4 linked regions of the Homo sapiens genome follow. The protein of the gene in region 4 interacts with the protein of the main gene of each other region in a pairwise test. Each region holds a gene or a part of one and is shown on either strand. Other genes may lie near its edges. The genes, in order: RTN4, PPP2R3C, CERT1 and RTN3.

Region 1 (7,215 bases), on a different chromosome or scaffold from region 4:
GGTAAAGACTGGATCAAGCAAGAATCATCAATGGTTTACTAAATTGGAGGGGCGAATTTTGATAGGGAGCAGGATATCTGCATGTGTTCAAGTGTCACTCCTCAGACTGCTTATCATCTGCAAGGGAGAAACAAAGACAATATAAGGAAATCAGAGCTCATCTTGCCCAGACGGTCAAAATTAACATAACCAGTGAGGGACTGATGAATAGCAGATAACTCTAGAAGTGGTGCTATGAGAGGGACACATCATCATCTATACAGTATCATAAATGAACCCATAGCCTCAAATTAATCACTAGGAAACATCGGACAAATCCACTAGGAGGAATGTTCTATTATAAAGTCGGGGGAAGAGAGGCCCTGTGTTCTTTAAAACTGCTAATGTCATAACAAATAAATAAAGACTGAAATGGGAAGTCCTACCCAGAGCAATTGAGCAAGAGAGAAATAAAGGATATCCAAATTAGAAAAGAGGAAGTCACATTGTCCCTGTTTGCAGATGACATGATCTTATATAAAGAAAAACCTAAAGACTACCAAAAACTTGTAAATTCTGTAAAGTTGCAGGATATAAAATCAATAACAAAAATATCGCATGTCTTTACACAAACAACAAACTAGCTGAAAAAGAAATCAAGTAGGAAACTCCATTTGCAATAGCTTAAAAAAAAATACCTCAGAATAAGTTTAACCAAGGAGGTGAAAGACTTCTACGAGGAAATCTACAAAACAATGATGAAAGAAATTGAAGAGGATACAAACAAATGCAAAGAAAGACATTCCATGTTCATGAATCATAAGAGTTAACATTGTTAAAAAATGGCCGTAATATCCAAAGCAGTCTACAGATTCAATGCAATCCCTAATAAAATACCAATGACCTTCTTCACAGGAATAGGAAAAAAAATCCTAAAATCTGTATGGAACCACAAGACTCCAAAAAGCAAAAGCAATCCTGAACAAAAATAAAGCTGGCGGAATCACACTACTAAATTTCAAAATATACTACACAGCTATAGTAACCAAAACAGCATGGTACTGGCATAAAAACAGAAACACAGACCAATGGAACAGAACAGATAACCCAGAAATTAATTAACATATCTATAGCCAATCAATTTTTGGAAAAAAAAAAATGCCAAGAACATTCATTGGGGAAATGCCAAGAACATTCATTGATACTACTACTGAGAAAAAAAATCAGTATTTACATTCCAATAGTAAGAATATAGTTTGTCACAAATTTCTTTGTAAATGGAGGGGGAGGAAGACCAGAATTCATTAGTTTCTTGACAAACTTTACTTCCCAAAATTAATAAAGCACCATCTGCATCACAATACCTTATTCATCTCTCTTGCAAAATCAATCTTTCTTCCCAAAACTAAAACTGATTTCTGCCTACAAAATGTCATTTTAAGAAAACAAGAACAGGAAAGTCCTGGAGGCTCACACCTGTAATCCCAGCACTTTGGGAGGCAGAGGCGGGAGGATCCTTGAACACAGGAGTTTGAGACCAGCCTAGGCAACAAGGCAAGACCTCCTCTCTACAAAAATAATTAGCCAGGCATAGTGACACGAGCCTTTGGTCCCAGCTACTTGGGAGGCTGAGGACCACCTGACCCTGGGAGGTTGAGGCTGCAGTGAGCCATAATCTCACCACTGCACTTCAGCCTGGGCGACACAGCAAGAACCTGTCTCGAAAAAAGAAAAGAAGAACATATGAGATAATAAATGATCTGAGGAAATTAGTATTTTATTATTTAATAGTTTAAATGTTTAAATGCATATACATTAATAAGACCCAGAATTTTTTTAAAAACACACTTAAATATTTCATAATTAGAGATGGCATAAAACTTTTAAGTCATCTGAGAAGAGAGCTTCCCTTATGTTTTATCAGACCACTGCTGTATTTTGGTACATTTGACTTCAGTACACTTGAACCTCCCTTTCACGAAGATACACAGGTAAGTACCTATCCTCACTATAACATAGATCACAATGTTTAACTATGTCCTCAACAGTGTGTCTGTACCAGCTGGCTGTAAGTTGCATAAAGCGCAAAACTTTGTCTTAGTTTCATCTTTTTCCCTGCCCCCCCCGCCAAAAAAAAATCTCATATAGTGCCTGATAGAAGCATGTTAAAGCAACTCTTACCTGCTTTTACACTTTTTTTTTTTTTTGTCTTTTTTTTCTCCCTTTTTTGTGGAGAACGGAGTCTCACTATATTGCCCAGGCAGGTCTCGAACTCCTGGGCTCAAGCTATCCTCCCACCTCTCCCTCCCTGAAAGCTGGGATTACAGGCGTAAGCCATTGTGACTGGCCACTACTTACCTGCTTTTAACAGATGCCTGTTATATAATCAAGTCAAGAAAATTATTAAGTTGCAAGGACTTGAGCTAATCCACCCTTCCTTTTATAGAAAAGGAAAATGACATCTAGAGAAACAAAGTGATTGTCAGTGGTATAGCCAAGACTAAAACCTCAGGTCACCTATATTGTTTTCATTATAGCAATACTGGGTTTCCTTCCCACAACTTTTGTAGAATATATATATTGGGTGTATCTAAATAATTCTCTATTCCCTAGTAAGTTGCTATGATAACTAATATCAAAAAAGGTTAAGTCAAAAAGGCAGGAAATAACAATTTTCTCAGAGAAGGGAGATAAACATATTCTAAAAGAGAATGCCCAAGCATTGCTTACACTTTCTTCCACCATTCCCATTAAGCTTTCAAAGGCAATGCCCCCTTTTCTTCCCTTACTTCTAAACTATTAGGCTATAGATTTCCCAGGTTTAACAAAAACAATCCAAGAAATAGGTGACTCCTGAAATACTGAAATTCCTAAGGGCCACCATCTACTAGAGGACTGCTAGCTTTAAGTTTTGGGAGGAAGCACTAGCGGGGAGGGGAGACTTCAAAGGTGTTGCTACACCGATTACTCCTTGCTCTTCACCCAGTCATCACCAAGCTGCTCTGGGCTTCTGAGACCCTTCTTTCTACTGTTCCCTCCTAAACCATTTTACTGTGCTGTTTGAAACCCCCATTCCACTGTGAACCAGCTCCTCTACTCCTCAACATCTTTACTGAACATTCCTGCCTTTACCTCGCCTTCACTAAAACCTGGCTGTTCCTTGAAGATACTGGTTTCCCTGTGGAACTTGCTAAATGAAGGCTAAATCGTTCTCTCATATTCTACACACCTAAGGGAGGAGTGGGGAGGTCAGTACCCTCTGCTCACCAATGCTGCTTCCAGACTTTTATTTCAGAGACCTTGGGCAAAAGTCTTGGCTATTCCGCTACGTCATTCTCTGTCCTTCCTCATTTCTTCTACCTACCATCCTGCCAGTTACCTCACTGCCCTTTACCAAGGACTCTAACCCCAGTATTCCTCTCCACCCCTAGTCCTGCCATCACCCTGGGTGACTTCAATGTTAGGTAGAAGTGCAATACAGTATCATGGCCTCATAGTTTACTTGACCTCACCTCTAGCAATCTTAATCTGACTACACAGTAGGCCTTTGCCTGATGGCCTAACACTGGCCATTATAATCAACCTGAACTGCTATTCCTCTGAAATTCTAAATTCAACATCCAACACACACACACACACACACACACACACACACACCCTGCTCTCCCGCACATGCATTCTTTCTCTCCCCTACTTTGACCACAATCTCCTATCATTCTGGCATGTATTTATTCCTACTACTATTGGTTCTTAAACCTAATCTGGGCCTTGAGTTCACTGACCATCTACTCTCCTCCTACCTCTCCTACCTTTTTCTATTCACATCCTTCAACTTAGATGCCACAGTCCATCACTTCAAATTACTCTCCTGCTATCACCCTCAACTTTCTTGACTTACTGTCCTTCCACAGGGCCCACCTGCCAAAACACATCCTTGAATCAATACAATCATTTGCCTTCCCTGAACCCATACCTAGGTTGTTTGGCACAATCAAAGAAAAGTCACCCTACCATTTAGACCACCTTTCAACCTTGATTAGGCTCCTAATACAATGCCTTTGGTTTCCCTAGTCAGAGGTATTGCAGATCTCTTCCACCCAAGCATGATCTACTTCATTCCCAGCAAATGAACTAACATACTGCTTTAAAGAACAAACATAAACCATCAAATAATTCCCTCAACTTTCAGTCACAAAACCCTAACAGTATCAATACCCCATACTTTCCTTTCCACTCACTACAATCAAAGCTCTATCGTTCCTTCTCTCTAACACTAATTCTTCCACCTGAACTAGGCAGCACATCCCCATCCCCTTCTGACTTTCTGCCAGCACCTGTAATCAGATTTTCCCCTTCCCACCTTAAAAAAAAAGTCCTACCTCCACTGCATACTCTCCTTCCTGCTTGCTAATATTTTAATTTTTCTCCAATAAAAATCTCAAACTTCTTAAGAGTAATCAACATTTAATAACCACTTACTCAAGTCTCATTCACTTCTCAATCCTAGCCATGCCCATGCACACCACACCATTTGCCGCTGTCATGACAATATCTTCCCTCCTTTTTGACCAACTTGCAATCCTTAACTGACCTCTCCAGTATTTGATAATTTTGACCATTTCTTCCACCTTCAAGTAGTCCTCTTCTCTTGATTCTTCCTAATTGGTATCTGGGGCTTTAATTTCTATCTCTAAGCCCATGACAGACACATACAGCCAAGATCTCTCTCAAGAGCTTCATGTGTATAATATCCATAACTTACTGGATATCTTAGAGGTATGTACATCAATACCAACATATCCAAAACCAAATTTGTATCTTCCCTCTTAAACCTACTTTAATCTCTCATGTTCCCTATCTCAGTTTCTCATACTGCCACCCATACAAGTGCACATGCCAGAAATGAAATCCAGGGTTCCTGGGGTCATCTTTACCTCTTCCCCTCATCCTTTATGTCCCTATCCGTCAAACACCAAGTCCTATGTCTCTGTGCTCATCCCACTGCCTGAATGTTCATAATCTCCTCTTTCTTAGATTACAGCAACTGGTCTACCACTGTTCCAATGGTGATGAGCTGGACTGTACTGCTGAAGCACCAGCACTTAAATACATAAGTATATTCAGTAAATTTATCATAATCACTATTTTAGAGAAAACGCAGCTAAATCAGAATGCTAATAAAGAGCACATGTGCAAATCACCTTGTGCAAATCACCTTATGCAAATCAGGTATGTGGAAAATGGATAGTCAAAAGAAAAAAAGGAGAATCGGTACTTTTCAAAAGAATTCATAATAGCATAACTCATTTTATACTTTTCAACAAAATGTCTACACTCAATATGCCTAACTTTATACCTACCACTGGAAAAGTACTATATTATATAGAAATATTTAAAACATACTATAGAAATTTTCTTTAAAAATTAAATATGGTAATTTCTGGGATAACAAAAACACATCTGAAAATATTTTAATATCTCTTGCTCTTCATGTTATCAAGAAACACAAGTGAAAAAAGAAAGAAAGAAAGAAATAGGTACTAAAGCCAATTCTTATAAACAAAAATATTTTCTATTAATAGTTCCATAGTGCAATATAAAAGTGTAACTGTGTGGAAAAGTTAAGGGTGAATGCTGAGTGCAAGAGAGTTAGAAAAAGCACTAAAACCTTTAACTGAAAAAGTGGAGAAGACTTCTTACCAATGTGACATATGAGACACTATAAACATAATATAAAACACAAAATGTAGTGGAATGTTCCCTAAATCCAAAAGTGGCATGAAAGCACAAAACTGCATATAGATTGGATTACCTGAAGTTTTACTCAGCTCTGCTGAAAATATAGCAGATGGTGATCTGTCCTCTTTTTCTGTATCGGAAGGAAGTTTTTTCTCAGCTTCTTTCACAAGAACTTTGGGTTTAACTATGCTCTCTATCTCTGCTTGAGTGGCCAAAGCAGAAACATCTGGAGGCAATAAGAGCACCTTTGATGTAGCAGACCCATTTTTAGAAAAGTCATCTGAGAAACTGATTTTCTCTTCAACTTTGGGTTGTATGTTCTTCAAAGAAAGGTCATGGGGCAATTCTGTGCAAGGCAATGACCCAGCTCCATCCGGGGCATTAGCAATTTCACTTTTGTGGGATACTTCTAGGTCAGTATATTCCCTGGCTAATTTAGAAAATGAATCAGTTTTAGAACTGATCAATGTAGGGAACTCATCTATAATTTCAATTGGAGATGAATCTGAAAACGTTTCAGTTTCTCTTATCTGTGCTTCCTTAGAAATAAATAAGTCATCATTTGAATAAACTGCAGTACTGAGCTCCTCCATCTGCAAAGGAATTTTCTCCTTTTTGCTCAATGTTGAAACTTCATCAGGTAACAGGGTATCTTTTGTGTTATCTAAACTGAGCTTAAAAGATTCCAAATATGGCTTTCCTCCCTCAGGTGGCAAAGCACTGAGTTTTTCCTTATTTTCATATTCTATCATTGACTCAAATGAAGTCTCAGTGAGACTTTCTTTCACAAGCATCACAGTTTCATCTTGTTTTTGTGGAACGTCAGGTATTGAATCATCACTAAATAAGTCAACTGGTTCAGAATCAGGTGAGGAATCTTCAACTAGCTCAGAATGATCAGGCACTGGCTGTTCAACTTTTGCCATTTCTGAATAATCAGAGAAATCCGGAGCTGGTTCAGCAGAAAGCTTTGTTTCTTTAATTAAATCACATGCAATAGATATATAAGGAGCTTCTGTTTCTTGAAGAGCTGCATTAATATTTTCAGGCTCTTTAATTTCTTCCTTTATTCCTGATACTTTTTTTAGTGATACACTCATGGCCTCTTCATATGGTGGGGGGTTTTCAGGCTCATGTTTTATGCTTTCATAATTAACTGAAGAAGCTTCTAATGGTGATGAGCTGGGCTGTATCACGGAAGCACCAGCACTAGGAACTGCAGAATTCAATGGTGCTTCCATAACAATGTCAGGCAAAACTGGTGAAGGAGTAGCTTCTGACTCTTCAAATGATGGGCAAAGCTGTGCTGCAGGATAGAGTGACTCTTGCATAACTTCTGATGTTTGAACCAAGTCCATTTTTGTTTCATAAGCAATCTTTGTACCAGTAACTTCATTCAATTCACTTTCACATGCTTCCTGTACTAAATCTGGAGTCAGGCCTTCAGGCATGTTTGCCACGACTTCCTCAGTCACCTTTGTTAAATTATCTGTTGTG
Region 2 (8,119 bases), on a different chromosome or scaffold from region 4:
TCACAGTACTCACAGGAAAAACATTTTGGGCACTGCTAAGTCTCTGTATGCAAAGTATGTTTTTTTCCTCAGATACTCTAATTACAAACTTGTAATTATCCTACCCTTAAGGTGTTCTTAAATATTTTTCAATTAATAGCAACAAAACCTACTAAACCAAAATCAAACAAGTTAAAAATAAACATTGGTCTTCACCTTTTTCGGACTGTGGTGAATTGTCCTTTCCATTGTTTTCCAGGAACACTATGAAAAGATTGCAAAACCAAATCATGAGAAGGTTAGATTCCTACTGAAATGAAAGATATTCATGGTATTTGGAAACTCTTATAAGCAAGAAGTCCGAAAAGTTCAAGATACTTCTGTAGAATGGTTTAATTTAAAAAGTGGCTGCTATCCTGGATGGGGTTAAGAAGCTGCTGGTACTCTGCTCTGGATCTCCTTCTTCCCTGTGGTTCTCCTCCCAACAAATAACTCTCATCTTCAAGTCTACCAAAAGCGGCTGACCTTAGTAGCATAACCTCTAAACCAAACTCAACTCTTACCTTCTCCATAAAGCTGCCAGAAATTGCTCCTGCCGAGAGTAATTTACCTCTTACACACCACTGTTATTTCACTGTGTGGTACTGTATTCCCAATTAAATTGAGAATGTCATAATAGATTTTATAAAACACTCGCAATGCCTAGCCTATTTGGAAGCATTCAAAAACTATGTATTGATGTATTTGTTCAATCAATGTATCCTTTCCTCCTTCCCCTTCCACATATTACCATCAGTTCTTATGATTCTACTGCCTTCTCTCCTTCCTCAGTTCTTAATTCTCATCATCTCTCACCTAAACCTAAAATTGTATTCACGCAGATCTCCCTGTTTTCAATCTTAATCCCTCTCCTATCTACTCTTCTCACTTGGCAACTGCCTTTGTAAAACTCCATTCCAGCATTATTTTTTTCTTTTGAGACAAGGTCTTGCTCTGTCGCCCAGGTTGGAGTGCATGGCGCCATCACAGCTCCCTGCAGCCTTGATTGACTCCCTAGATTCAAGTGATCCTCTTGCTTCAGCCTCCCAAGTAGCTAGGACTACCGGCACACACCGCCATGCCAAGCTAATTTTTGTATTATTTGTAGAGACAGGGTTTCACCATGCCCAGGCTGGTCTCCAACTCCTGGCCTCAAGCTATCCTCCCACCTCAGTCTCTAAAAGTGCTCAGATTACAGGCGTGAGCCACAGCACCCAGCCAAATCCAGCATTCTTGATAACAGAATAAAATCCAAACTCCTTGGTATTCAAAGATTTTCACAAATGGGCTCCTCCTCCCTTGATCTTCAGTAAGTTTAAGATAATTAAGCATAATTACTGCTTCAAAGCTCCGTAAACATGATATAGGGGAAAAAAAGGCAAGAGAAAAACAGAGGGAAGGAACAAATTTTTAGGAAGCAAATTAATGAAGAAATAATGACTAAGCATGGTGGCTCACACCTGATCGCTTGAGGCCAAGAGTTTGAGTCCAGCCTGGTCAACACAGCAAGACCCCACCTCTTAAAAAAAGAATATTAATTTTAAAAAATAAGTAAAAATTTTCAAAAATTTTAAAAAAGACTAAAGCAATAAACAGGTATGTACCCAGTAACATGAATAAAGCAAAAGCAAACCAAAGGAGAGAGCTTTAGAGAGACAGCAGCCAAATGATAGAAAGGTCCAAAACAAACTGGAAGGGTTAAGATTTTCCATTGTAATGCTTACGTATAAGGCTTGATCAATATCCCCCTGTCCACTCTAATCATCCAAGTTGATGAACTATAGATAGTAGACAGAATAGGCCGGACGCGGTGGTTCACGCCTGTAATCCCAGCACTTTGGGAGGCCGAGGCAGGCGGATCACCTGAGGTAGTTCGAGAGCAGCCTGACCAACATAGAGAAACCCCGTCTCTACTAAAAAGAAAATAGAAAATTAGCAGGGCATGGTGGCGCATGCCTGTAATCCCAGCTACTCGGGAGTGTGAGGCAGGAGAAAACCCGGGAGGCAAAGGTTACAATGAGCCGAGATCATGCCATTGCACTCTAGCCTGGCAACAAGAGCAAAACTCCGTCTCAAAAAAAAAAAAAAGGGAGAGAGTAGACAGAATAAATATAAGCATATTATCTCAGTCGCTAGATTTCAGAGGAACTTCTGAAAATACTAATATGGCCAGAGACAGTTCTAGTCAAATGCTATATTCTTTTCTTGCTATGAACAGTGGCCATAAGTAGTATTAAGTACTCACATCATACTAGATGCCTAAGAAAACAAAATTAATGATCCTTCCAAAAGGAAAAAAATGTAAAAATTAAAACTGCTATATAATTTCAGTTTTATGTGATGGGTAAAGATTAGCACAAATTATGTATGTTGTTACTTTTTTTAAAGAGAGAAAATTTTGTCGTAAAGAGAAAATAAATCTTACTAAGAGATGGAAAAAAGTATAATCAGAAGAGTGATTCTCAGCAACTAACAACAAAAAAGAATGGCTACTTTGAGGTTTAAAGTTATTAAATTAAAAATAATTAGCCAGGTATGGTGGCACATGCCTGTGGTTTTAGCTACTGAGGAGACTGAAGCGAGAGGATCACTTGAGGCCAGGAGTTTGAGGTTACAGTGAGCTATGAACACACCACTGCACTCCAGTCTGGGCAACAGAGCAAGACCCTGTCTCAAAAAAAAAAAAAATTAAAGAATAAAAACATACATATAAAAAAACCAAAATTACCTCTCAAACCATGTTTTTATACTGTGTGCAAATGACTCCCCTGGATACAGCTGATTATTTCTTAGATATGAAAGAATATCTAGTAGTTTATTTGAATAGTTATCATCCTTTATGTCTTTTCCAAAATCAAAGAAAGCTTTTAAAGTTTCCAACATAGGAACAATATCATGACCTAGCAATTCCTGATATAAATTCCAAGCTGTGTTTACATCTTGATGAAGGAGAGCTCCCTGGATACAGTCATTATAGTTCTTTTTTGAAGGAGTTATAACTTTTTTGATGTCCTCTAACAGCAACAATGCTTCTCTCCATCTGTCTGAATGGATCAATCCCCGGATGAGAAGACTGTAACCTCTAGGTTCTAAAGTCTTATATCTGGCTTTCATAATTTCAAAGACATCAATAACTTCAGATGTCTGCATATGAAAGACACAGAGATACAAATACTTGACCAGTAAATCGTAACTTACAATACCATTATTTTTGGCTGCTACCCATGCCAGCAGAGATTTAGCCACATCTATAGAGCTATGACAGCCAGCCATCTGTGAAATGATCCAACTTTCGAAACTGGTCTTTCCGGTGTTTTCTTTTAAATCTTCCTTAAGTTTATCCCACTCCTCTGAATTCAAAGGTTGTGTTGGGAGTTGAATAGTGTTCCTCACAGGTGCCAAGGCATGATCTTCAGTTTGAGAATTCATCTGTGATCTCTCCTTAGCTGCTCCAGCTAAAAAAAAATGAGGAACAGAATAAACTTGCTTATTACTGCCCTCATCTTTCCTGAGATATCTGGCCTTGGCAATCAGATTCGTTGCTTTGGTATTCTGTGGAGACATTGTTTTAAGAGAAAACAACCTCTGCTGGTTCCTGATGCCACAGCGGTCTGCCAGAAACAGCGAGACATAAGAGTGCCCTGGGCCTAGCCCAAGGTATGGGCTCTTCCAAAGCTTCGGAAAGCTTCGAATACCAAACAAATAGAAAGTCATTATGCAGTGAGATCAGCACCAGATAGTGAGAGAGATGTTGAAAAAACCCCTCTTCTATGGCAAAATTAAAGAGATTGGGGGTCGGCGGTGCAGAGTCGAAGTGGAACTTTTTAAAAGGTTTGTGTTTCTTCCTTACAGACAAATCAAGGTTCTGCTTTTGGGGCTACTTAAAAGCAAGAAGGCAGGTGAGTTTTCTCTATTAAACAACAATCCGGGGATGTCCAACGTCGCAAGCCGCAAACCAGGGGACAGAGCAGGAATCCTCTGGTGCCTCTTACATTCCAGTTCATGAACCTGAGGAAAAAGCACAAGACGGAACGCCCAGTTTTACTCACGTGGATCACAGCTGTCCTGAAAAGGAACAGATTCCCACGGGAAGCTTGCTGGAAAGGGGGTGTAAAGCCAAAACCGTATCCAGGGACCCCCAACTCCAGCCTACCACCAACAGCGGCGAAAGCCGAAGTCTAGGGGCCCTCACCCTGCATAGCTCTCTACAGACCGCAAAACTCCTCCGGTGGGGGGACGAGGAGGGAGGAGGTGGCGAGTCAGCTGCGCCAACGACTCAGGAAAGGAAGAGAGGTACAGGAAGGGCGCTGCCTAGACTGCGTACCGAACGCTGACAAATGAAGTTCACTTCATTCAACAACTCAAAGCGGCACTCAGACTTAACGCGGCCATAAACGCGGCGGAAACTACAGTGCCCACGATGCACCGCGCCAGCCCCGACCGACGGACGAGACTGACCCGGACTTAGGCGTTCCGCCTGGCCCGGCGGCGAGGAAAAAAGGCAGTTTTGAAGCATTTAGTGGCAAAAGGGGTAGGAGACGGCTGCTGAAGTGTCTACTACATTCAGGGGACCTGGAAGGCTTCCAGATATCCGCAATGAACAATGAAAAGAAATTGTGAAAGAAGGCGCTTCCCTCAAGCCGGAACTAATGAACTCCTGGGTCACGTGGTGCGCACGCGCCAAAGGCACACGATAAAGGAAAACGCGGGCTTATCGTGGCCTTTAAAATCCGGCTTGGTGAGCTTGGGTCGCCTCTGAAGGAGAACCATTTTCCATCTCTTTCATAGTTTTTTCCCCCAGTCAGCGTGGTAGCGGTATTCTCCGCGGCAGTGACAGTAATTGTTTTTGCCTCTTTAGCCAAGACTTCCGCCCTCGATCAAGATGGTGGTTGGACGGCCTTCCTAACCTTTACGGGGCCTGGCGGTGCTGACGCCTGAGCTGGTAGGGGTGGAGCAGGTAGGAAACAGCAAATGCAGAAGCTGCTGCGCGGAAGTCGGCCATGGACTGGAAAGAAGTTCTTCGTCGGCGCCTAGCGACGCCCAACACCTGTCCAAACAGTGAGTTTTGGGAGGGGCAGCCCGTTGGGATGGCCCGGCCCTAAACTCCTAGAGGTAGGGGGGAGGTGGGGAGGAGGAGCAAGGGGGAGCCGCCTTTTCCGCTTCTGTGAAACCTCCCGACAAAGGAGGCGGAGTGGAATGTGGTTTAAGGATCCCGATAGGTTTGACCCAAACTTTCCTGGGGCAGAATCTAGAGGAACGAAAAACTTAGCTTTAGTCACTGACTTCCATGGTCTTAATCTAAACTTGTGAAGAATAACTTGGAACCCCGGCTCCAACAACGCCTGAACCCCACCAGGACCTATAATTGTCCTCCTGCCTTTTTACTGTCACGCTTTTTGCTTCCCTCGTAATCCATTTTATATTTCATAATCCATTTTTCCTTTTATTTTTCTCCTTCACATTGCTTATTAACTAACCTCGTTAAATCTACCTTTCCTATTCCACACCCGCACTAAGGGCTGTTGAAAGTGGCTGGAGAAAAACAGAACCTTGGTGAGTTGTCTCACTTTTTTTTTTGAGACGGAGTCTCTTGCTCTGTCGCCCAGGCTGGCTGGAGTGCAGTGGCAGCATCTCCGCTCACTGCAACCTCTGCCTCCCGGGTTCAAGCGGTTCTTCTGCCTCAGCCTCTGGAGTAGCTGGAACTATAAGCGCGCGCAACCACGGCCGGTTAATTTTTGTATTTCTAGTAGAGACGGGGTTTCGCCATATTGGCCAGGCTGGTCTCAAACTCCTGACCTTGTGATTCGCCCACCTCGGCCTCCCAAAGTGCTGGAATTACAGACGTGAGTCACCGCGCCCCGCCGAGTTATCTCACTTTTAATACAAGTCCACTAATCTAAAGAAGGTGTTTTGGTCATGTCTACCGTGTTTTCCTGGACGTTCATTCTCCTACATTCAATTTTCATCTCCCAAACTGCCAATCTGTGTTTTCCTAAATACACTTTTTTTTTTCCGATACAGGATCTCCCTGTGTTGCCCAGGCTGGAGTGCAGCGGCGCAGTGAAGTATTGCTGCAACCTCGATTTCCTGGGCTCAAGGGATCTTCCCACCCCAGCCTCTTGAGCAGCTAGAAGTACAGGCACACGCCACCACACCCGGCTAATTTTTTATTTTTAGTGGAGATGAGGTCTTGCTATGTTGCCTGGGCTGGTCTCGAATTCCTGGCCTCAGGCAGTCTTCCTACCTCCACCTCCCAAAGTGTTGCTATTACAGACGTGAGCCGCCGCACCCAGGCAACACTCTTTTACACTATTCTTCTCATCTCCTACACCTGCAGTCTGTCCTACCCGCTTCTTACTTTAAGCTGATGAACTTGTATTTTAATATATATCTCATTAAGAAAGGAGAAGCAGTCGGCCGGGCGCGGTCGCTCAGTCCTGTAATCCCAGCACTTTGGGAGGCCGAGGCGGGCGGATCACGAGGTCAGCAGATCGAGACCATCCTGGCTAACACGGTGAAACCCCGTCTCTACTAAAAATACAAAAAAATTACCCGGTAGTGGTGGCGGGCGCCTATAGTCCCAGCTACTCCAGAGGTTGAGGCAGGAGAATACCTTCAACCCGAGAGGCGGAGCTTGCAGTGAGCCCGAGATTGTGCCACTGCACTCCGGCCTGGGCGACCGAGCGACACTCAGTCTCAAAAAAAAAGGAGAAGCAGTCAGAGGAGAACATCACCTGTCCCCCTTAACATTTCTTTCAGCCCCACAACCCCACAGTTAGTTGCCCATACACTCTGGCTTCACTGTTAAAATGATGAACTGATGCCGGGCGCGGTGGCTCAAGCCTGTAATCCCAGCACTTTGGGAGGCCGAGGCGGGCGGATCACGAGGTCAGGAGACTGAGACCGCAGTGAAACCCCGTCTCTACTAAAAATACAAAAAATTAGACGGGTGCGGTGGCGGGCGCCTGTAGTCCCAGCTACTCAGGAGGCTGAGGCAGGAGAATGGCGTGAACCCGGGAGGCGGAGGTTGTAGTGAGCCGGAGATTGTGCCACTGCACTCCAGCCTGGGCGACAGAGCGAGACTCCGTCTCAAAAAAAAAAAAAAAAAAAGATGAACTGTCCATGCTCCTATTTAAGAGTCCCTCCAGTCCACCACTAGATTGCATTCTTTTCCCTGTATTCACTGACTTCCTTCCAGCCTCCTCCTTTCTTTCCTACATCATCAGATTTTCCTTCTGCTGGATCATTTACACCAGCACAAACGTGCTGTTAATATCACCCATCTTTTTAAAAGGTGGGTGGTCGGGGGTAGTGGTGTTGGGAGGCTCGGTGGCTCATTCATGTAACCCCAGCACTTTGGGAGGCCGAGATGGGAAGATCGCTTGAGGCCAGGAGTTTGAGACCAGCCTGGGCAACATAGTGAAACACCGTTTCTACAAAAATAGAAAGTAAAAAATTAGCCCGGGTGGTTGTGCACCACTGTAGTCCTAGCTACTCGAGAGGCTGAAGCAGGGAGGGTTGTTTCAGTCTAGGAGTTTGGGGCTGCAGTGAGCTATGATCATGACACTATACTGCAGCCTGGGTGACAAGAGCCAGACCCTGTCTTAAAAAAAATTCATTTGGGCTGGGCACTGTGGCTTACACCTGTAATCCCAACACTTCGGGAGGCCGAGGTAGGCAGATCACTTGAGGTCAGGAGTTCAAGACCAGCCTGGCCAACATGGTGAAAGTCCGTCTCTACTAAAAATACAAAAAGTAGCTGGGCGCAGTGGTGCACACCTGTAATCCCAGCTACTTGGGAGGCTGAAGCGGGAGAATCGCTTGAACCCAGGAGGCAGAAGTTGCGGTGAGCTGAGATTACGACACTGCTCTCCAGCCTGGGCGATAGAACGAGACTACATCTCAAAAAAAAAAAAAAAAGTCATTTGATCCCACATCCCTCTCCAGCTTCTGTTGCATTTCTCTGCACTCTTCATAGGAAAACTTCTCAAAGAAGTTACCTGTACTTGGCTGGGCGCAGTGGCTCATGCCTGTAATCCCAGCACTTTGGGAGGCTGAAGTGGGTGGATCACCTGAGGTCAGGAGACAGACCAGCCTGGCC
Region 3 (7,680 bases), on a different chromosome or scaffold from region 4:
CTCAGTAAGTATTAGCTGTATCATGACACCTGGAAGACAAGTTTTTTGTCTTTTCTCTGCTCTCATAATGTTCCCTCACTCTTCCCCATTTAACAAATACAGATAAGGCAATATGCTAGACACTGCAGGGGAATCAAATATTACTGTGGCCAACAGGCCAGCAGACACAAACTCAAGAGAAAAAAATATATATTTAGAATAAGAGTCAGAAGCAAGCTACAAACAAAATGCTATGGGAATTCAAGTGAAGGAGGTCTTGAATGATGGCAAAATAAGAAAAGGCTTTATGGAAAGGACAGTATTTGGCTTGGACTCTTAAGGATGGACAGAATTTCAAACAGTTTGGTGTGTGGAAAAACAGAAGGTAAACCATGAAGGATGGAGGAAATTCAGAAATTGAATGAGATTATTTTATCCAGGCTTAGGTGCTCTCAAGTCCTACTAAGGCATGCATCTTTTCCCCACCATGATCCATCACGATACTTGCTATAACTAGATAGAATTATTGTCTATCTAGTATTTTTGGAATCTATACACTTAAGTGATTTATAAGAAATATGCTTCATAGGTATTTCCATGTATTTCAGATTACCATATGGAAAATACCCTTTGAACTGGTATATTTCTAATATAAATTTACCCAAGCCCATTCCAAATCCACCCCATTTTGGGGGAGAAACAAAATGAATTGTACCGGGACTTATTTACATTACTCAATGGAAGGAAAAGAACAAAATCCGAGTTCTGACCTTTGTTTAAATTACCAGGTGAATACAAAGAATTCAAACTATATAATTTACATTTAAAAACATCTACCATACTCAGTATGAGTATATATACTCAATTTAGAATACCCTTGATTAAAAAGCTTCCAGAAAACTGTATATAACCATAAATTGGTAAATCTCAGGAAAATTTCCTTCATAGCTTTGAGCAAGAATACCAAAAGCTTTATTCCTATTCATTCTACATATGCAGCAACAGTCAAAATTTAAGCTATTCACCTTCCATAGAGGTGATCAAATACATTTGTATGCATTTAAATATCGAGATTGGTCTTCCATTTTTTTATCTATAGTATACCTACTCCAGAGCACTGGTTACTTTTTCCCCCGGTCACTCCACTCCCCCAACCCCCAAAAAAGTAATTATCAGTAGGTCAAAAGTACAATTTGTTTCGTAAAATACTTAACACATCACAATACTAATATGGCAGTCAGCTTCCCATCTTATGAGCAGTGATGAAACTACCAAAATCACTGAGAAGCAAGTAACCCACTTCCTATTACCAACTGAAAATGTATACCTACTACACAATGTGTTCAATAGAGATTCCTAAATTACAGGATACATTTAATCTAAAGAAATCCTGAGGAGCTTCTCGTTACTGAAAACCTTGCACTGAAATTTCAAGAATGATCACAGCATCAATATACAACATAATTTTGCTGCTATACAAATAAAAGTCAACACTTGCAATCCTTAGTTCTGACTACTCATGCCTTTCCTGGCCCCCTTCTCATTAGCTTTCTAGACATTATAAAAGCCTAATATGAAACAATTCCACAAATAATGTCCAAGTGATTTGCCAAATATGAATACTGGAAACAGGGTGATTTCTTAATAGCCACTGGCTGCACATGACATAGTATCTTATGACCAGCTTGTTGAGGGACTGGCCCAGCTCCCCCTCTCCAAGTTAACTGCTAGCTCCAGCCATGTCTAAAAAAGTTTAACAGGAAGGGAGAGAGAAGTCAAAAAGGCTACGTGAATCTTCTTACAGCAAAAACTTAAAAAAAAAATCCCCACAACTATGTAATATCAAGAGATCATCCACCTGCAGTCCTATAATGACTGCTTTGCTAAAATTTTGATACAGGGATTTTAAAAAATATATAAAAGATAAAACATCTTTTCCTTACCCTCGACCCCTTACCGCAAAAATATTTTATTATTAAGTAATGCTCTTCCTGGACTAAAGATCAGTCTCCATTCTCACATGTTCCAAGTTACTATGAATATTTCCTGTACCCATCATGTGCCGATTCAATATCTCTATTCTGAACTAAGGTACAGGGTGAGGGAGAAAGTCCTCCACATTCATCTGTCTCACTACATCTAACCTAGCAGAATTCAACACCTCAAATTTCAACACCAAGCTGAGTCGCTCCAGCTTCTGTCGAAAGAGTTGCGTCCGCAGTGCCCCCCAACCTACTCGGCTTGGCATCCTCAGAGAGACCAACCTCTTTTAAGAGGTCCGACTTGAACCGCTCCCATGCCCAGTCGTTCGGACACCGCTGAAGCCCAACCCGGATTCCTTACACCCGGGACAGCTGCCGCCCTAAGTCCCAAGTCACGGCGCGCATCTGGCCTCCCAAACTGGATCTCAGGTTTATACACCCTTTCCCTGGTCCTCGGCTGCCCCCGACGAGCCCCCGGGCAACAAGGACAGTGCCCCTATATCCCCGCCTCATCCCTAGTCGCTGCAGCAACACTCAGCCTCGCACCCCGGCACGTTCCGCGCCTCCCGCCAGCCCCACCCCACCGCCTCAGCGGATTGCCTCGCTGCAGGTGAGTCTGGCCAGGGGTCCCTTGGCACCAGGGGTTGCTCACCTTACTGAGGACCCCGCAGCGCTCCACAGGCGGCCCAGACTCCGTCTCTGGATCCTCCTCCGAGCCCGACGAGTTCCAGCTCTGATTATCCGACATGGAGGCTCGACAACCGAGCAGGAGACCGGCCCCCGCTCCCTCAGCTGCGCCGGAGGAGGCGCCCAGTCCTCGGGGTGAAGGGTCGGGGGATGGCGAAGCGAAGAGTGCCCGCTCCGGTGTGGGGGGGAGCAGGAGGAGGGACGAAGTCCGCCCGCCGCGCCGCCGCCGCGCCTGACACCGAGCGGAGCGAGGAAGGAGGACGAGCGGTGAAGGAAGCCTACCCTTCCAGCCGTCAGCCGCCGCCGCCGTCGCCGTGACCCCTGCGTTGCGCCCGGCGCTGCCACCCGAACTTAGCCCCCTCGATGCCAATTTCAAATAGGGAAGGAAAAGGGAAAAGAAGGGAAGAGAAAATCCGGCCGCTGAGTCCCGCGTCCACTCACACCTCCGCTACCGCCGCCATCTTCCTGCCTGGCCCACTATTTACCCTCCCCTCCCCTGTCCTTTCCCCTCCCCTTCGTCCTCCCATTCTCCCCCACTACTCCCCGCCCCGTCCCCCTCCCGGCGTCTGACGCGACACGCCGAGCCTTCGGGATCCTCCTCCCGAACCCTACCTCCGGCTCTCCCGGGTGACGACGGGTAGAAAAGCAGGAGGAGCGGAGAAAGGAGAGGGCGGGGTAGGGATGCAGCTGTGCTGCATTCTGGGAAGGGCGTTGGTCCGTCGCTCGCGCAGCCTCCTGGGAGTTGTAGTCGCGATCCTGAGGTAACGGGTGAGTATCCCGCGCGGGGATCGCTTGTCCCCTTGGGGCCTTGTCAGTCGGTGGGTGGGCTTCGTTTGACAGTTGCGTGACCAGCCCCTCGGCCTCGCTTCTATCCTTGCCTTGTGTGTTTATGACGAACCCTCCGGGCTTGCGGGCCCAGACGTGAGAGAGCTTTCCGCTGAAGATGACGGGCCTGCTTTCCAGGGCGGCTTGTCGAAAGCCCGGGAGCATCTGGCCGCTTCCGCCTCAACCATGGGCTGGGGTTTTGTGAGCTACTAGTGCCAAGGGTTTTCTTTCCACCAGACCACCGCTGTAAATCTCGAGGGTCTTACTCATTAGAAGTTAGAATTCACATTTGACGTTTAAAGGAAGAATTTCCTTAGTACCTTCTCACAAGCACGCACTTCGCATTTTTAGATTTCTAGAGTTTGCTTTGTAGAAAGTAATTTTGAGGTTGTCAGAGAATAAATGACGTTAGAAAGGTTTTTAAAGTAAAACAAGAATGTGAGATGATAGCCTGGGATTTTCTCTTGGTTGTAAATGAATATCTTACTGAGAACCACGTTAACCATGCCTGCCCCTCAAAGATAGGAAAGGTTGGATATATAGAAACTTTCTCGTATTAGAAATACCGAAGTGCAGTGGTTTTGTGTGTACAAGGGATTAGGCAATAGGAGGCTATTTTTGTTTTAAGACTAGGGTTGAATTAGCAGAAAGACCAATAGAAGATCTAACAACTCTTGTCAGTTGTCAAGGATAACTTTGATTATGAGACTTTGACTTTGTAGCTTCAGTAATTTCCTCTCGTTAGCTATTTTAATATAGTCGATTTCCTTGTAATTGCCAAGAGTAAAATTTGTTATTAAACCTTAGAAAGAGTACTTTCTTACTACAAGGATGGGACGATAGGAGCGAAATTTCGAGTCTAAGGGAAAACGCTGGCCGAGTGTGGTGGCTCACGCCTGTAATCCCAGCACTTCGGGAGGCCGAGGTGGGTGGATCACCTGAGGCCGGGAGTTTGAGACCAGCCTGGGCAACAAGGTAAAACCCCGTCTCTACTAAAAATACAAAGATTAGCCGAGCATGGTGGTAGGTGCCTGTAACTCCAGCTCTTTATATCCTGGTTTCAAATCTAGGCTTGATGACCTTCTCCCATATCCCAGTATCATATTTTTTTCTTCCTGCATGGGGGATTAATTACGATTCTGAATGGTTGGTAGCATGAAGCTAGGTTATCCCTATCGTGGCAATGGATATTTAAGTAGGCATTGCCAATATTTATCTTGCTTTCTTTTACTTTCTTCTTTTTCTGACCATCCACACTCCATTTATATTGATGAGTTCTTTTACTAATATCAATTATTATTATATTATGCTCATACTGCCATGTCTTATTCTGCAGCTTTGATCCTTAAGGTGACTTTGCATATCTGTCTAGGACTCCTTTATCTGTTGATTTTTACCATTTAAGTCTCCAAAGACAGCTGTATTTTTGGAAAAGTGGGAGGGAAGAGGTAGATGGGGATACTCATTGATACCTTAATGCACTTCACAGCTGCTTGAGAATATGTCAGATCTCATAAAAAGTTCTAACATTCGAGAATAAGACAGTGATTTCAGAAATGGAATTTCAAAGGGTGTGTAGGCCACCCTTTTTATCCTGTTTCCTATTGTAGAAATGAGAGCCAGGCTAGGAATGTTTCAAGCAGAAATATTCTTACTATTCAATGAAATTGAAAATGTATTCCCATATCTTTTACTCCTATCTGTTTGGTTTATGGGATAAAAACTTGTTAGAGTAGTTGGTATTTCATAGGCTTCACTATAACATTGGAAAATCTTTTAGTCTAAAAAGCACACAGTACGGTACACCAATGAACAGTATTAGTGCCCACTCTTGGCATGTACACATGTTCTTTCTGTCGTTTTTATTTTGCTTAGCTTTTGAGTCTCTTCCTGTTACTGTGAGAAATTCTTTTATTAATATTTTAAAGGCATACTATATAAAGCAGTGTGGTGGTATATTAGGTATCAGTAGAATCCTCTTGATAGTTATTTAGTAAACGTGTTTTGCTTCCTGTTTTTTTCTAACCTTTTTATTGTTTCACTTCTACTATAATTTCACATCCTTTTCTTCTTAGTCAAATAAGTTGAAAAAATATATTTTTATAGAACATGTTGCTATGGTGATAGTTTATGAAAATATACTTTATCCCTGTTTAAGATCTTTATTAAGATCTTGCTATATGATAATCTGACTGGGGTGCTATAAAAGTAAGATATAAACCACTTCTTCTGTAGATTCATTGTTTTCTAGCATTTTTCTGTCTAGGTATTCTGACAATAATTATGTGTAGAGAGTGAATAAATATTTAAAATTGTGTGTGACATAGGAGGTTTTCAGTAAATAATAACTGATGAATGAAATAAGTTTAACTTGGTTGATGATTGAAGAGAAGTTGTGGGAACTGCAATTAACAAGGCCCAAGAAAAAAATCACTAACATGATTAAAATTGGTCAGACACCAAAGAACCAAATAACATCATAGCCTTTTGTAAGTAGCAATTATCATTTGCCAAAGGCCTACAAAATGTCAAACATTGTTTTAGGTTCATTTGATTTATTCGCTCTTCACAAAAATCCTGCAAGGTAGACATTATTCTTACTTTACATATGAGGAAATTAACATTCAAAGAAGTTAATTGCCCAGATCATCGCTAGTGAATAGTCTAGTCCAGACTTTGGACCTTAGGCGCTTGCAATACATAACTTTTAATACATATAGAATTGATTTTAGATTTTAGAAAAGTCACTCAGGCATAATGGCACATATCTGTAGTCCTAGCTGCTCAGGGTGCTGAGGTGGCAGGCTAGCTTGACCCCAGAGGTTTGAGGCTGTAGTGAGCTGTGATCATGCCAGTGCACTCCAGTGTAGGTGACAAAGTGAGACCCTGTCTCAAAAAAAAAAAAATTCCAAAAAACTATTATCCCAAATTTTTTAAATGATTAAACATTTGAGAATCTGTCAGAGCCAGATAGATTACATTCTAGGTGTGTTACATAGTTTTTCTTTAGTTTAACAGTTTTCTTAAAAGAAAATTCATCCACATGCATTTTTAAGGTGCAGTAACATATAGCCAGTTTACAGCTCTTTTCTTGCTAGTGTACACTAGCAAATATATGTTCCAATTACGCATAAATAATTTAAATGATCTCTGGAGCCTCTTGCAACTATCCCCTTGTCTTGTGTTGCTACTAAAAGGAAAAACGTATTGATTTAACCTTTGGTATTATCAGGAAAAATAGTCATTGTCATTTACTATCATTTTATTTTTTGTATTTTTGGTCATTTTATGAATAGTCCTGAGAAGCAGCAATAAAGGGATAGTGGAAAAACAACTTTATTAGAAATTATAATAAAAATAAAAACATAGCAAACCCAAATTTTTATTCCATATATTCTTGAAATAGGGAGGCCTCAAGCAATCCTCCTGCCTTGGCCTCCCAAAGTGTTGAGATTTGATGTGAGCCAACATGCCAGGCCCAATATTCTTTTTTTATGGCTAAATTCCATTGTGTATATAGACCACATCTTCTTTATCCATTCATCCATTGATGGTTGATTCCATATTTTAGCTATTGTGAATAGTGCTGTAATAAACGTGTGAGTGCAGATATCTCTTCAATGTATTGATTTCCCTTTTGGATATATACGTAGTAGTAGAATTGCTAGATCATACAGTAGTTGTATTTTAAGTTTTCTGAGGAACCTCCATACTGTATTCCATAGTGACTGTACTAATTTACATTCCCACCAACAGTGTAGCAGGGTTCCCCTTTCTCCACATCCTTGCCACCATCCATTATTCTCTATCTTTTTAATAAAAGCCATTTTAGGCCGCCCATGGTGACTGAGGTGAGAGGATCACTTGAGCTGCTCAGGAGTTTAAAACTAGCGTGGGCAACGTAGTGAGACCTCGTCTCTAGTATAATAAAAAAAATTTTTTTTAAGCCATTTTGACTGGGGTAAGATGATAGCTCATTGTGGTTTTGATTTGCATTTCTATGATGATTAGTGATGTTGAACATTTTTTTAATTTACCTGTTGGCCATTAGTATGCCTTATTTTGAGAAATGTCTATTCTTTTGCCCATTTTTAAATAAGATTATTTTTCTTTTATTGAGTTGTTTGAGCTCCTTATATATTCTGGTTACTAATCCCTTGTCAGATGGATAGTTTGCAGACATTTTCTCCTGTTCTGTGGGTTGTCC
Region 4 (7,288 bases):
CCAACATGGCAAAACCCCATCTCTACCAAAGATATAAAAATTAACCAGGTGTGGGCCGTGTGTGGTGGCTCATGCCTGTATTCCCAGCATTTTGGGAGGCCGAGGTGGGCGGATCACGAGGTCAGGAGATCAAGACCATCCTGGCTAACACTGTGAAACCCTGTTTCTACTAAAAATACAAAAAATTAGCCGGGCATGGTGGTGGGCACCTGTAGTCCCAGCTACTGGGAAGCTGAGGCAGGAGAATGGCATGAACCTGGGAGATGGAGGTTGCAGTGAGCTGAGATCGCACCACTGCACTCCAGCCTGGGCGACAAAGCGAGACTCCGTCTCAAAAAAAAAACCAAAAAAAAAAAAAAAAAAAAAAAAACCAAAAGAAAATTAACCACGCGTGGTGGCACACGCCTGTAATTCCAGCTACTCGGGTGGCTGAAGCATGAGAATCATTTGAACCCCGGAGATGGAGGTTGCAGTGAGCCAAGATGGCTCCACTGCACTCCAGTCTGTGACAGAGCAAGACCTTGTCTAAAAAAAAAAAAAAAAAAAAAAAAAAAAAGAAAGAAAAGAAAAGAGAAAGAAATAACGAGTGGAAACCGCGGCATTTAATATTATTCGGAAAATGTAATGCAAACTCATGTACTTGGAACAGCACTTCACGATATAATTCTACTACTTTCGACAAAACACATAATTTCAGCACCTTTTCCACTATTATAAAGAGAAGTGCAAAAAATACACAATAAATAGATAAAAATTGTGACAAGGGTAGATGACATAAAAAAAGGTAAGCCAAACAGAAATATGTTATGTCATTAAATTCGTATTGCCAATTTAGGTGCCAATTAGGTTGTGGTATGCCTGTGTGTCTGTGAACAAAATACTCTTATTTCATTGGCCTACTAGGCCAGTTCTTCCATAAGTGCATTAAAAGAATGAAAAAGTTGAATCTCAAATGATTTCACCATTTAGTTATAAACAAACTAGGACTAAATTTTCAAATCTGCTAACTAAAATGACTCTTCAACACTTAACATCTGTCTTATCTTGAGCTTACAGAGCCAAATTTCTAAAACTTAGGTCTGAATCAAAAATGAAAAATCAAGAAAACCCAAAAGGTAAGTACAAAAGGGCCTACCAAACAGTAAGCAATGACAAGTGATTAAAGCAAAAAGATCAAGTTGCTAAGTTATAAGGAAGTCGCTGTTCATCTGGACCTTAGCCCAGAACACAAAAATTTGGAGAAAAGGCTGGTGGTTTAAAGGAGACAGGGTTCTAAATTTGCTGCCTCATTCTTTTATCTGCAAAAGCTTCCTGATACTGCCTGTTTCTACTGAAATGGCCATAACCACACTGAAAAAATCCAACAGGGCTCCAAAGCTCTCAGACAGGTGAAAATTCACTGCTAGAAAAACACGTAGAGAATAATACATTTAAGGTTAAGATCAGAAATTTTTTCTTTAGAACCCAAGATTCTGCCAAAGGAGACAACGAAGCATTAAAAAAAAATGATCAAAATCCTTTAACATAACTAAATAGAGAGCAAAATTATCTCTACTCTCCCGAATTTACGGCCCTGCCTTTGACAAAAGGCATTTTTTTTCCCTTCAAAGACTCCGTTCCTTTGAGAACTACCACCTGCCCATGGTGGTTTTTTTTTCCCCCCTTAAGAAGGCATCTGCACTGCAGATTTCTGCATAAGGGGAGCTTGCCAGGCAGCTCTTACCAGCAGGCAGACGCGTATACAATGCAAACTAAAGGAGGTCTGCAGCTTCGTTCTTAGTCTTTCACAGAGATGGGAGAAGGGGACTCAACCAGCCCTTGCTTTGTCTGAATGTTCTCCCCCTCCCCCTTTCTGCAATAAACACCCCCCTTTGTTATACTTCGATCAATAGTAGCCCACAGAAAACATGAAATCAAAACATGTTGATAGCTTAGCATGACTCTATTTTCTAGAATATAAGCGACTGATTGCGTGTCCCCACCCCCACGCAGCGCCAGGGAAGAGCAGGCTGTTGCAGATGCAGCCACGGATCCATCTTGGACCATTAGCAGCTCCCTCCCAAATCTTCCCTGAGCTATTCTCATCACGCCTCCTTCTACCTCGGAGCCTCAGAAAAATCCGGCATTCATGGAGTCTAGCCGAAAACAGTAAAAACAAAACAAACAAACAAAAAAAACAGGCTACAATGCTTCCATTAAACTTCCTCATCCTTCCCATGGGCAGCCAAAAATATTTTGGAGGACTATCATGAATGCTTGATTATGTCAACACCTGTCTGCAAACCTGCAATGCAACCCTTTCACCACCATCCCCTCAAAAATAGTAACAAATTGTTTCTCCCACCACCCACCTGCCCGTATCCTTTCAATCTCTCTAATCCTCACTAAATCACCCAGGTTCACCATATGCATCGAGCAACTCTCCATTTTATCCCACGAGCTGGTATTTTTCCCCACCTGCCCAGTCTTGGCGTTAACGCCCACTGGACTATCTCCCCGCCCCCAACCTGTTTTCCTCACACCCCGCTATTTCCTCACCGCCTGCACAACCTTACGTTCCCCTTCCCCTTTGCCCATTTTCCAAACGCTCGTCCCCGGGGGGCTGAAGCCGTCAGTAGTCGAGGGTAATTCGTCCTCCTCCCGCCTCGCCTCCTAATCCCCCCAGCCCCCAGGCTCCCGCTCGCCCTCTTTCCCAGGGCGGGGGCTCCCCGCGCGCCTTACCCGCACAGGAGGAGCTGCAGCTCTTCGTCCCCAGGGCGGGGCAGGCTCCTGGGCTCCCGCCGCCGCCGGGCGCGGACGGCTCGGCTCCGAAGGACGACGAGGAGATGGAATGGGACTGAGTGGCCGCCGACGGCTCCGCCATGGCTACGCGAGCGAGGGTGGGAGAAGGGTGAAAAGAGATACGGGGCGGGAGAGAGGGAGGGGAAATAGAATAATCCGGCAACTGGCTCGCTCAAGTCCCTTTACTCCGCCTGCTCCGAGGACAGACTCCGACAGACTGACTGACTCAGCCGAGCGCAGCTAGAGGGCGGGAGCGCGAGCGCGCATGCGCACAAAGGGCCCCAAGCGGGTGCCAAAGCGCGCAGCGGCGCAGGGCGCAGGCGCAAGAACCGCTCCTCTGCGCTCTTGCAGGGAAGGAGGGGCAAAGCCGGCCTCACGCGGCGCCTCGCGCGCCGAGGGTTGGGGAGCGTCCCTTGGGGACCAGACGCAAAAGGCGTATCCAAGCCCCAATCCCCGCCCACGACTGCGGCTAATCGTGGAGCTGCGGGATAGTATTCCCTCCTGCCTCTTTATGTGAATGTTTTAGGGTCGGCAGATTATGTATTTTAACGGTAGAAATGTCTTTGGGCTTCCATTATGGAAACTCTCTTTCCCGTACATTCCAGAGCCTATATCTTTTGTTTGATGCATTCCCACCTGTGACTCCAATAAAAACTGAAAACCAGAGTGTAGAGTAGGCCCACTCTGCAAGGTGCTTTGTGAATCTCACTGGCTGTGTCGTAATATCTCCTCACCGAGAGGCAGAGATGGCACGGCCCCCCATTTGGTAGGTGGAGAAAGATGCTATACAGAATGAAAAACGATTACTCATTCCAATCACATTGCAATGCAGTCGCAGAACCTGCTTCGTATTCTTATCTCGTTACTGTTGCCAGAGAAGGGTCCACCTTGGGTCTTAAGGTTCTCTTTTCCTCCGAATAGACTGTCAGATAGAGACGACATATTTTAGAGAGGGAAAAAAAATGCTGAGCTGATGAAGAAGAGCCAGGAGATAAGAAAATGTTGGCTGTGATTATGGGGGATGATAAAATTAGATATTAAAAATTCAGAATAAGGCCGCAGTCAGTGGCAGAGGCCCGTAGTCTCTGCTACGGCAGAGAAGGGAGGATCACTTGAGCCCAGGAGTTGGAGTCCAGCCTGGGCCACACAGCGAGAACCTTCCTGCCTTAAAAAAAAAAAAAAAAGTAAAAAAAATCAGAATAAGGCACAAAATACACATAATTGAATTTTATTCATAGACTAAAAGAGGTCCTTAGCAGAACATGTATTTAAAACCAGATTTCTAGCCTATATTGGATTTTGTTCATTTTTTGCTTTTCCTGGGCTGGATTGCCAAATTCGAAGCCTTCTCCCTACATCTGGTCAAAATATTGGAAAGGTGCATAGTCTTTGTTAAAGGAGGACTGTTGGCTGGGCGCGGTGGCTCACACCTGTAATCCCAGCACTTTGGGAGGCCGAGGCAGGTGGATCATCTGATGTCAGGAGTTCAAGAACAGCCTGGCCAATGTGGTGAAACCCTGTCTCTACTAAAAATACAAAAATTAGCTGGGGGTAGTGGCGGGCGCCTGTAATCCCAACTACTCGGGAGGCTGAGGCAGGAGAATTGCTTGAACTCGGGAGGCAGAGGTTGCAGTGAGCAGAGATCTCACCATTGCACTCCAGCTTGGGTGAAAGAGCAAATCTCCGTCAAATAAAAAAAAAAAAAGGAGGACTGTATCCTGGAAATAATAAAAATCAAGGCTGTCGACTGTTACTGCTAAAGCAGCAATCGATGACCCAAAGTACAATTGCAGGATCAGCAGATCCTGTAAAGATGCAGCCTCATGAAGCGGGAGGTGGTCAGCCAAGCTGCCACTGAGGGGAAAGGCGATCTGACCAGTGGAAATCTTCTAGAACAAGCTGTGTACTACATCTGCCCTTGAGTTTTTAAGGTCAGGTAAAGCCCCAGGGGGTGGGAGGATGACTCCTGGCCTTTGCAATGCTCTGAAAAAGGCATAGAAAAATATTTCCCAAAATAACTTTGTGGCTAATACCTTACCCTGGCACTTACTGCATCAGCTGATAATGCAGCAAACTGTCTCTTGGATGGCAAAGGGAAATAATAGCAGATCGGATAACCAAGCCAGTTATCTACCCATTCTGATACGTGCATATGTTTTTTTAAAAATCGCATTATTAGGGGAGCTGTTTTCTTCTTCCTTCCTTCTTTCTTGTCTATTAAACGCTCTGCTCCTTAAAACAAAACAAACAAACAAAAATCTACATTATTAAGTGCTAGATAAGGAAATAAATGATGCTGGTAGCTAACTCTGACAGCACTTGCTACAATCTGGAGACTCCAGCTGGAAGGAAGTCCATTTTCCTAATATGTAGCAGCAGAGAAGTTAAAAAGCAAGATATGCACGTGGTCTTACTGGTCTTTTCAGACCCTTCAGACATTTTTTTTTTTGAGATGGAGTCTTGCTCTATTGCCCAGGCTGGAGTGCAGTAGTGCCATCTTGGCTCACTGCAACCTCCGCCTCCCGGGTTCAAGCAGTTCTGGTTCAGCCTCCTGAGTAGCTGGGATTACAGGCACATGCCTCCATGTCCGGCTAATTTTTGTATTTTTAGTAGAGGCGGGGTTTCACCATGTTGGCCAGGGTGGTCTTGAACTCCTGACCTCGGGTGATCCTCCTGCCTCAGTTTCCCACACCTGGGATTATAGGCGTGAGCCACTGTGCCCGGCCAGTTCTATGAATGTGTATTGATCATGTGCTGTGTGTATAACACAATTCTGGGAACTTTGAAGAGACCTCCAAAATATGTTAGTCTTGTCTTCAATGAGCTTACAAGCTAGTTAGGACAAAAAACATACTCACATAAAGTTAAATAATATAAATTAAATAGCAACTAAAAACAACCCCAAACACCATAAAACCATAGTGCTTTGATTAGATGGCAAGTAAATTAAATGAATTTAAAAGAGAGGGGCCAGGCGCAGTGGCTCACGCCTGTAATCCCAGCACTTTGGGAGGGCAAGGTAGGCGGATCACCTGAGGTCAAAAGTTTGAGACTAGTCTGGCCAACATGGAGAAACCCCATCTCTACTGAAAATACAAAATTACCCAGGCATAGTGGTGTGTACCTGTAATCCCAGCTACTCGGGAGGCTGAGGCACGAGAATCACCTGAGCCTGGGAGGCAGAGGTTGCAATGAGCCAAGATCATGCCACTGCACTCCAGCCTGGGCAACACAGTGAGACTCCACCTCAAACAAAAACAAAAACAAAAACAAAAACAACGAGGGGAAGGAATTACCATGAAGTTGTAGTGGCTTAGGGAGGTTTTTTTTTTTTTTCTGTCACCCAGGCTGGAGTGCAGTGGTGCGATCTCGGCTCACTGCAACCTCTGCCTCCCAGGTTTAAGTGATTCTCCTGCCTCAGCCTCCCGAGTAGCTGGGACTACAGGTGCGTGCCACCGTGCCTGGCTAATTTTTTGTATTTTTAGTAGAGACGGGGTTTCACTGTGTTAGCCAGGATGGTCTCGATGTCCTGACCTCGTGATCTGCCTGCCTCGGCCTCCCAAAGTGCTGGGATTACAGGCGTGAGCCACTGCGCCCAGCCAGGAGGTTTTGTGAAGATGCTCAAAGTTAGATAGGTGTTTGGAATTGTAAGGAAGTCATTAAAAGCAGAAAAGGATGGTATGAAGCAAATACAGGGGTTGCTTTTGTGAATGTATACAAAAAAAGTACTCTTCTGGGCAGATGAATCACAAAAAAGAACCTCTTTCTCCCAGCCCCACCCATGATACAGTTCCATGCTGATTTGGCTAGCAGAACCTCACCTAGATTTGATCCCCTCTTGCCCCTTGTCTCCACAAGCTGCCTTGGTGTAACACTCAGACTGTACAGCCATATGTGGTGGCTAAAGGCTCAGACGTGAGCGTGTATAAGGTGTCTTGGGTGTTGGTTAGACCAAATTGGCTGGAGCTGAAGGCTTGAATTAGGACAGGAGGGAAGATATAGGGATAACATCTAAAATGAGGAAGATATGTTGGGGCCAGTTTTTGGAGAAGCAGTAGTATTGAACCAAAGAACTGAGGCTTTGTCTTAAGAATAATGGGGATTGAGTGGAAGTTTTTGGTGGGAAATGGCTCAGCTGGGATTTTTTTTTTCCTTTTTTTTGTCCAAGATGGGATTTTTTTTTTTTTTGAGATGGAGTCTCACTCTGTCACCCAGGCTGGAGTGCAGTGGCATGATCTCAGCTGACTGCACCCTCCACCTCCTGGGTTCAAGTGATTCTTCTGCCTCAGCTTCCCGAGTAGCTGGGACTACAGGCCCATGCCACCATGCCTGGCTAATTTTTATATTTTTAGTAGAGACGAGGTTTCACCATGTTGGCTAGGCTGGTCTTGTACTCCTGACCTCGTGATCTGCCTGCCTCAGCCTCCCAAAGTCCTGGGATTACAGGCGTGAGCCACCGCGCCCGGCCCAAGATGGAATTTTTAAAGTGCTCCCTGGCTGTCATGGT

What was found.
Region 1: the proteins of RTN3 (region 4) and RTN4 interact in binary tests that used the Homo sapiens proteins (3 or more experiments, as listed by UniProt).
Region 2: the proteins of RTN3 (region 4) and PPP2R3C interact in binary tests that used the Homo sapiens proteins (3 or more experiments, as listed by UniProt).
Region 3: the proteins of RTN3 (region 4) and CERT1 interact in binary tests that used the Homo sapiens proteins (3 or more experiments, as listed by UniProt).

What each region holds. Positions count from the first base shown.
Region 1 is NC_000002.12:55,019,295-55,026,509, forward strand, and holds part of RTN4 (reticulon-4), read right to left. Parts: coding exon 5,792-7,215; intron 1-5,791. UniProt on the Homo sapiens protein: Required to induce the formation and stabilization of endoplasmic reticulum (ER) tubules. They regulate membrane morphogenesis in the ER by promoting tubular ER production.
Region 2 is NC_000014.9:35,118,859-35,126,977, reverse strand, and holds the start of PPP2R3C (serine/threonine-protein phosphatase 2A regulatory subunit B'' subunit gamma), read left to right. Parts: upstream 1-4,987; 5' UTR 4,988-5,018; coding exon 5,019-5,076; exon of another isoform or gene 5,077-5,139; intron 5,140-6,149; exon of another isoform or gene 6,150-6,151; intron 6,152-8,119. Other genes in the region: PRORP (mitochondrial ribonuclease P catalytic subunit isoform 1 precursor), read right to left, coding at 196-243, 2,747-3,732. UniProt on the Homo sapiens protein: May regulate MCM3AP phosphorylation through phosphatase recruitment. May act as a negative regulator of ABCB1 expression and function through the dephosphorylation of ABCB1 by TFPI2/PPP2R3C complex.
Region 3 is NC_000005.10:75,508,499-75,516,178, forward strand, and holds the start of CERT1 (ceramide transfer protein), read right to left. Parts: upstream 3,132-7,680; 5' UTR 3,008-3,131; coding exon of another isoform or gene 2,710-3,007; coding exon 2,614-2,709; intron 2,572-2,613; exon of another isoform or gene 2,276-2,571; intron 1-2,275. UniProt on the Homo sapiens protein: Shelters ceramides and diacylglycerol lipids inside its START domain and mediates the intracellular trafficking of ceramides and diacylglycerol lipids in a non-vesicular manner.
Region 4 is NC_000011.10:63,677,212-63,684,499, reverse strand, and holds the start of RTN3 (reticulon-3), read right to left. Parts: upstream 3,001-7,288; 5' UTR 2,864-3,000; coding exon 2,722-2,863; intron 1-2,721. UniProt on the Homo sapiens protein: May be involved in membrane trafficking in the early secretory pathway. Inhibits BACE1 activity and amyloid precursor protein processing. May induce caspase-8 cascade and apoptosis.